Homo sapiens: one gene and its partner. The protein of the gene in region 1 interacts with the protein of each later gene in a biochemical or structural test. Each region holds a gene or a part of one and is shown in the gene's direction. Other genes may lie near its edges. The genes, in order: SLC25A17 and MARCHF1.

Evidence for each region.
Region 2: the proteins of SLC25A17 (region 1) and MARCHF1 form a complex in vitro, tested with the Homo sapiens proteins (one study listed by BioGRID).

Annotation. Positions count from the first base shown.
Region 1 is NC_000022.11:40,768,945-40,774,481, reverse strand, and holds the end of SLC25A17 (peroxisomal membrane protein PMP34), read left to right. Parts: intron 1-462; coding exon 463-545; intron 546-3,500; coding exon 3,501-3,648; 3' UTR 3,649-4,852; downstream 4,853-5,537.
Region 2 is NC_000004.12:163,523,965-163,527,086, reverse strand, and holds the end of MARCHF1 (E3 ubiquitin-protein ligase MARCHF1), read left to right. Parts: 3' UTR 1-2,369; downstream 2,370-3,122. UniProt on the Homo sapiens protein: E3 ubiquitin-protein ligase that mediates ubiquitination of TFRC, CD86, FAS and MHC class II proteins, such as HLA-DR alpha and beta, and promotes their subsequent endocytosis and sorting to lysosomes via multivesicular bodies.

The DNA of each region.
Region 1 (5,537 bases):
GAGGCCGAGGTGGGTGGATCATTTGAGGTCAGGAATTCGAGACCAGCCTGGCCAACATGGTGAAACCACATCTCTGCTAAAAATACAAAAATTAGCCGGGCGTGGTGGTACATGTCTATAATCCCAACTACTCGGGAGGCTGAGGCAGGAGAATCACTTGAACCTGGGAGGTGGAGGTTGCAGTGAGCCAAAATTGTGCCATTGCACTCCAGCCTGGGTGACAGAGTGAGAAGATGTCTCAAAAAAAAAAAAAAAGGAAAAATTTTTCTTATTTTCACTTATTTGATTGAAATATTTCACTCAGTTGAAAAATACAGGATTAATGAAATCTATGGTACTAATTGGATAAATTTATTAATGTATGCTATAAGATACTACTCCAACATAATATCCTCCCCAGGTAAAAATGAAGATTTTAAAAAACAGCAACAGTACTTTTGTTTTTTTTCCCTCTTTCCTCAGTTTGGGCGTCATAGACTAAACCCAGAAAACAGAACATTGGGAAGTCTTCGGAATATTCTCTATCTTCTTCACCAACGAGTAAGGTGAGCTTTGTAGATGCCTCACATTCCGTGCTCTCCTTCAGCAGCCATCTCTGCCAGGGAGGGGTTGCATTTCCCTCTCTCACACTACTGCCTTGGTGGTGGCAACCTCCAAAACCTTTCCCTTGCTTGCTGTGCTTAGACATTTCCCATTTTAGGAGCCTAGTACAGTATGACAGCATTTTGGGAAATTATGGAAAAGTTCAGGTTCTTATTCTTTGTTAGTTACAAATATTCAGAACTCCTTCAGAAAGAGAACCCTTCTATACTTCAGTCACCCTGAGTGTGCTTTCATCAGTGGCATATCCTATGATGCCTCTTAGCAATATAACATCTGCCTATAGAATAGGAGTACTGGAGAAGGGAGGGGGCAGTGGAAAAAGTGATAATAGTGATGATGATGATGATAATGATGATGGTGGTGTTGGTAAGAGTAGCTAACATTTTCAGTGGTTTGCCATGTGGCAGACACTGACCTAGAGGCTACACATAGGTAATCTCAATCCTTTTTTTTTTTTTTTTTTTTTTTGGAGACAGAGTCTCGCTCTGTTGCCCGGGCTGGAGTGCAGTGGCGCTATCTCCGCTCACGGCAAGCTCCGCCTCCTGGGTTCACACCATTCTCCTGCCTCAGCCTCCCAAGTAGCTGGGACTACAGGCGCCTGCCACCACGCCTGGCTCATTTTTTGTATTTTTTAGTAGAGATGGGGTTTCACTGTGTTTGCCAGGATGGTCTTGATCTCCTGACCTCGTGATCTGCCCTTCTCAGCCTCCCAAAGTGCTGGGATTACAGGTGTGAGCCACCGCGCCCAGCCTTGTCAATCCTAACAGTAGCTCTGTGAGTTAAGAACTATTGTCATTTCCTGTTTCATTTAAAGAAACTGACACTTAGTGAAGTCAGATAAGTCAGGGACCTCCTTTGAAGCAAAAGCTCTTATAACTTTATTACTGTTCCTAGATACAAGATACTTTGAAAATAAATTTATTATTAAAATAAAATATGCAGCCAGGCAAAGTGGCTCATGCCTGTAATCCCAACACTTTGGAAGGCTGAGACAGGAGGATAGCTTGAGGCCAGGAGTTCAAGACCAGCCTGGGCAAAGTAGTGAGACCCTGTCTCTACAAAAAATATTTACAAAATTAGCCAAGCATGTGGCACAAACCTGTAATCACAGCTACACACGAGGCTGAAGCAGGAGATTCACTTGAGCCCGGCAGATTGAGGCTGTACTGAGCTATGATGGCACCACTGTACTCCAGCCTGGGCTAAAGAGGCAAGACCTTGTATAAAAAAAATAAAAAAAAAAAAAGAACATTCAAGGGACTAAAAGACAAAATTAGGCTGGGCGTGGTGGCTCACACCTATAATCCCAGCACTTTAGGAGGCCAAGGCAGGCAGATCGCTTTAGCTCAGGAGTTTGATACTGGCCTGGGCAACATAGTGAGACCCCGTCTCTACACAAATAAAAAATTAGCTAGGCATCCTGGTGCCTGCCTGTAGTCCCAGCTACCCAGGAGGCTGAGGTGGAAGGATTGCTTGAACCCAGGAGGTCGAGGCTGCAGTGAGCTGTGATTGTGCCACTGCACTCTAGCCTGAGCAACAGAGTGAGACCTTCTATCAAAAAATAAAATAAAATAAAAGACAAAGAATATGTATAAAGTAAAAAATAAATACTCACTATATCAAGTATTGGGAGGGATGTTGGAGCAACCAGAACTTACTTTCTTATGCTGCTGGTGGGAATATAGAATGGTACAGCTGCTTTGGAAGGCAATTTGGCATTTTCTTTAAAAATTTTTATATACCACACCTATTATAGGACCCAGCCATCCACTTCAGGGTATTTACCCAAGAGAAATGAAGGCATATGTCTACACAAAAGCTTGTATACAAATGTTAATAATGGCTTTGTTTTTTTTTTTTTAATTTTTTAATTTTTGATTTTTGTGGGTACATAGTAGGTATATATTTTTGAGGTATGTGAGATGTTTTGATACAGGCATGCAAAGCATAATAATCACATCATGGAAAATGGGGTATCTATCCTCTCAAACATTTATTCTTTTTGTTACAAACAGTCCTATTATACTCTTTTAGTTATTTTTAAATGTACAATTAAATTATTATTGACTATAGTCACCTGTTGTGCTAGCAAATACTAGGTCTTATTCAAACTATCTATTTTTGTACCTATTAACCATCCCCACCTTCCCCCCGCCACTACTCTTCCCAGTAGTCTCTGGTAACCATCCTTCTACCTTTATCTCCATGAGTTCAATTGTTTTGATTTTTAGGTCCCTCAAATAAGTGAGAACATGCGATATTTGTCTTTCTGTGCCTGGTTTGTTTCACTTAGCAGAATGACCTCCAGTTCCATCCATGTTGTTACAAACAACAAACTCTCATTCTTTTTGATGGCTGAATAGTACTGCATTTTGTATAAGTACCACATTTTCTTTATCCATTTATCTGTTGATGGACATGTAGCTTGCTTCCAAATTTAAGACATTATTTGTAAGAACCAAAAACTAGGGCCTGGCACGGTGGCTCACACCTGTAATCCCAGCACTTTGGGAGGCTGAGGCGGGCAGATCACGAGGTCAGGGGATCGAGACCATCCTGGCTAACATGGTGAAACCCCATCTCCACTAAAAATACAAAAAAAAATTAGCCTGGTGTCGTGGCGGGTGCCTCTAGTCCCAGCTGCTAGGGAGGCTGAGGCAGGAGAATGGCATGAACTCGGGAGGCGGAGCTTGCAGTGAGCCGAGATCGCGCCACTGCACTCCAGCCTGGGCGACAGAGCGAGACTCCGTCTCAAAAAAAGGAAAGTACTTTGACAACAGAAGTCTGTGTTGAAATCTAAAACCTCTATTGCTTGTTCTTATCAAAGTAGCTATCTAGGTAGCATGTTCTCTGATGCAGGAGCTGACTTCTGTTTTTTCAAACCTCTTTCCCTTTAGACGTTTTGGAATAATGGGACTCTACAAAGGCCTTGAAGCCAAACTGCTGCAGACAGTCCTCACTGCTGCTCTCATGTTCCTTGTTTATGAGAAACTGACAGCTGCCACCTTCACAGTTATGGGGCTGAAGCGTGCACACCAACACTGAGACGCCTTCCCATGAAAAATTCCGAAGATGCTCAAGAGGGAGGTTTCCTCCTGAGTGAAGAGAAGTGATTCTCCCTTGACTCTGGCTCCTGCCACCACAAATGTTACCCTCATTGGCTTGAAAAGCATCCAAGGGTGCACAGGGAGTATGGCCAACTGGACCTGTTGTCACCTTAATTGTCATGCTGGCTGGTTGGATTTTGGGGTGGCAGTTGGACTAATGTGAAAAAAACATTGCTGAAAACCTAAAAATGAAAGTTTGTGAGTGTTTATTGGTTTTCTTAAGAGAAATGGACTATTTTGCTCTCATGTGTAATGTTTTCTATTTAAATCTTTCTTAAATATACCAGCTGTTCTCTTTCCCTGAACTCTCCCCCAGGTTCTAGGACAAATTTAATAACATGTAATTCTCCTCAAATACTTTTGTATGTCTCAGTGTTGGTGTTTTCCTCCCTAAAACTAACATTAGGGCTGTGCCACGGGCATGACTTTATTTTTGTTGGGCTTTTTTTTCCCTGCTTAAGGAGAGGTGTCTTTTTTGGATATGAGCTATTTATTTTGTGAAATGAAAATTGTTCACCCAAATGATTCTCTTATAAACTATTTGTAAATGTCACTTATTCATTAGTGTTTGACATAATTTTTAGAATATTTATTTTGAATCAATCCTTTCATTACGAAAGACTTGAAGTTTTGTGTCCATTCTTACAAGCCCTGGTCAGTCAAGTCCCAATAAATGGTCAGCACAAAAAAGATATTCTTGAAAATTGCTCTTTATTAAGGTATTACGTTGAGTTTGCAACCAGATGGGAAAAATCACAAAAATGAGAAGGGGAGCAGATATCTTGTTGAGGTCTGGATATTATCTCCCTTTATAAACTTGGTGTAGGCCGTATATTTTGAAAATAAACATCTGGTTGAGGTTATTTCATTTGGAAACCTTCCTTAGAGTCCTGTTGCTCAGTGTGGTCCATCAGACGGTAGTACTGCCACAAGCTGAGAGCTTGCTGGGCACGCAACCCAGAGTTTCTGAATCCTGTTCCGTATTTTAACATTCCCAGGTGATTCACAGCCACATTAAAGTTCAGGAGACCATAGGACCCCTGACCCATGAGAAGAAGTGATTGGTTTCGATTATAGACATCAAGATAAAGATTTTTCTCAAAGGAAAGAGATTAATGTATTAAAACAACCTCTGAAAAATCTAGGAGTCGTATGTCATCTTTTGCTTTCACCTCACAGCACGTTGTTAAGGTGGTAAGGCTTTTATTATGCGGCCAGGAGTGGATTTAGATATCTCGACCCACTCAGGAAGCAAATTCACTTGACATTAGCAGAGCGGTTCTTTGGATTTCTATGACTTCCTTTTTGTCCCTATGACAAAATGGCGGGTTTTTCATTTGTAAGTCCATGATTTAGTCAGAGAGAGTAATAATGAAATACTTCATTATTAAGGATTTAGTTCAATTTTGAGAGTGGAAATTTCCTTCTCTTATTTCCTCTCTTTAGTCCCTGTGGTAATTTCAAAGTATATGATTGTTAAAGATCATTGCATTGTTCTAGCAAACAAAAATTAGCAGGAGCTAATAATCTGGGAAGAAGACTGAACATTCATCCCCTATTTAAGTCAGAGAATTGAAGACAGAATTGTTTTTTCTATTTTTTAATTTTACTTTAAGGTTTTTGTGTGCCTGTGGCAGACCTTGAGTGGGAAGTACAAAATTATTTTGATTTCTGTATAGGAGAAAAATGATCATAAAGGTGTCATGTGTATTTTCATTATTGTTTTAATTATGCCGTTCCCTTTGGAACTTGAATTTTGAGCTCAGAATATTGTGAGTTGGTCTGTTAGGATAATTTCCAGTTCGAATTATATAGCTGTATTAGGTA
Region 2 (3,122 bases), on another chromosome or scaffold:
AGGCAATGATGGCCATAAGAACCAAAGCATGAGTATCACACTGCACAAATCTGGGTATCACATGGATGCACTTTGTAATTATCAGTGTGCTTGTTCTTCACAGATCATAGGAAAAAGGGAAAAAAAAAACAAACCTTTAAATGAGGAGAAAGATGGTATAAATATTAGTAGTGGCTGACACTGAGTCCAGATAGTCTTGATTCCTAGAAATAAACAAAAGGTAAACAATGTCAATTTTGTGTGTGTGTATGGCGTGTGTGTAGTCATGTATATATGCGGGGAAAATGTTAAGGTATTCAGTCAGGAAACAAAAGGTTTAAAACTCATCTTTCTTAAAACTTGTTATAAGCACAGGGAAAGCAAAGTTGAGGTAACTAAACTGAACCAAAAATTCTGTATAAATAAGGATATAAGTAATTAACGTTTTAAAAAACATGTGGACCTTAAACAAACTGTATATTAAATTCCTCTTAAATGCCCATTTTAAATATTTAAGATAAATACATTTATGAATAACAAATCTGTGGGTGATTTAACCATGGCACCATATCCAAGGGATTAACCTTAATGCAATTTTCCTGTTAATTGTCCTAAGCTTTTTACTAATCCATTTTCCCTGTGGGTTAGTAATGGCAACATGCTGCTTACAGATATTCCCGGGGAAAAACATCCAGACACCAGCAAACAAAGAAATGTTGATTTCTCTTTTGTTTGCTCTGAAAGTAAAATAATTATTTACTTTAATTAACATGGAAAATATTGTTTAAATTCTGTACGAACCTAAACAAGATACGTTGCAGGGCTGATTTCACAGTGGAGGATGATCGGCTAAAATAAAGCCTCATTTATTAAGGGCTACACTTTTAACACTAAGAAAACATTTCTAGAATAAAAAGCAAAGGTAAGCATTATTCTATTAATAGTAAAAGAGGACATGGGATTTTAAAACTATACCTAAATTCTTGCAATTAACTTTTATGGGCTTGGACATTGTTGAAATGAGAAAATAATATAATATAGCTTCCTGGCAGGTTAAAAGTCAACACTTGATTTTGCTATTCTTCTGACTTTTTGAAACCCTGAAGTTCTGAATTTCAAGCTTTTAAGAAGCTTTTCAGCAATGGTTGTTTGTTTATGGTTCAAACATCTGAAATAACTACCTGCATTTAAAATCTAATGTTGATTATTTTCTTTTTACATTCTGTGTGGCAATGGAACATTTGCCCTTTCAAACAATAAAACGATTTAGCTTTGTGGCAGTGCTTTTTTGTAGACTGACTGACTATACCCTTCAAAAAGAAAAACTGCTCTACGGAATGCAAATTTTGAGGCATGTTTACCTGCTCGTGGAAGAAATAAAATGGAATTGAAAAAAAAAGGACTAAAATTGAAGAATGAAATTACAGTTGTGTTAAAAACCTTGGCTCTTTATAATCATGAATCTTCAGTATTAAACCAGACATTGATGCTGTTAATTTTTTTAAAGAACTATCACTCTTATCGTACAGGAGTAAAGATTAAATTGTAAAAGAAAGAAATTCCAATTTTTTAAAAAGTAAAGCCCAAAAGGCAATTAAGCTTAAGTACAAAAACAAAATAAAAATGAACAAAATCTAAACTAAAGTGAGCCCAACAACCTGAGATACAGCAATGTGTAACCTGAAGGAAGATAGGTGTAGACTGAAGGAGTCTTTCAAAACACCCCAGCATTAAATCTCACTCTGCGCTGCTTCTACACGTGATTATAGTCCCAGACAGACGACCTCATGGTTTTTTATCTTGTTTTACAAAAGGTCCTTGGGTACTCTTTAAAACATCTATTCTTTGGCAGGAAAATTAGCTCATTAGAACAATGACACCATTAAGGGACATTATAAGGGTCCTGGGGCTGAGGTGGGAAGATTTTTCTATCTGCCCCATATAGTTTACCCTTCCTTGCCTTGAAAATGAATATTATAGAACAGAGTACAGCTCTTAAAAGTTATTAGTATCATTATTATTATAGTTGTTATATAATACTTTAATTAAGAAAGATGAAAACCTTTTTTCTTTCCTAAGTCAGCCCAATGGTGCTATTTTACATATCAACACAGTTGAAAGGAAGTACTGTTATTTTGGGCTGCAGTGTTTCCTCCACATCTAAAGAAAGCCCATTTTGAAACTGGATACTGCATTAAAACAAAGAAGGAAAAATTATTTTAACTGTGTGCAGTTTTTGAAATTAGGCATTTGTACTATTTTGGTTTTACATAATTCTCTTGCATTAACAATTTACTGTTTTGTGAATCATGTGTACTAAAGCAAATTAAGAAAAAGAAAATAATTATCTGTGAAAGACTTTGTATATTAAACAAGTGACGCAAACCTTAGTTGTGGTTTCCACAATTTTTGCCTAACAGACTGATATTTGTATTTGCAACATCCAAACACACATACATTTTTTAAGATTTTACAAGGGTCTGAACATATAATTATTTTAAAGCAAACCTACGTTGACTAACTCATGACATGGTACAAATAAATAAATACACAAACAGAGGGAAACCAATGAAAATAAACTATGTGGACTTTCAAACCTGCTTTAAAAAAAGAGTTCAAGAGAAATCACAATGTAATCTAAAGCGGGACTGTCTCAAGAATAAGTCTTGGATATAGAAAAATAAGCATATAACAGCATTTTTCTGTTCAGAGATAATAGTGGATTCAGATAATTGCATGGATAATAAACATTAAAAGCAAGATATTAGAATCTAAGAGGTTTGGTGATAGCAAAAAACAAAGCTGTTTCCAAATGTCCAACTTCTAAGGACCTACAGGGCTTTCTACCAGTCTGCTAATTATATGAGCCAACTCCTCTGCCCAAAATGGAAATCTGAACTTAACACCCTCCCTCACCACCAGAAATTATAGCAAACATTCCTAGATCATTAATCACTGTCATTATGTGTCCAGTGATCCTAAACTGGGTGCTGTGATAGAGATTAACCAAGAGTAGCAAGGGTGTGGGGGTAGAGATGCTTTAGATAGAGAGAACACTTTTAAGCTCAGACCTAAAGGAAGAGAGAACAATCAGTTATTGTTGGCCTTGCAAAAGCTCAGGGGAATGGCAACGCAGGAAGAGG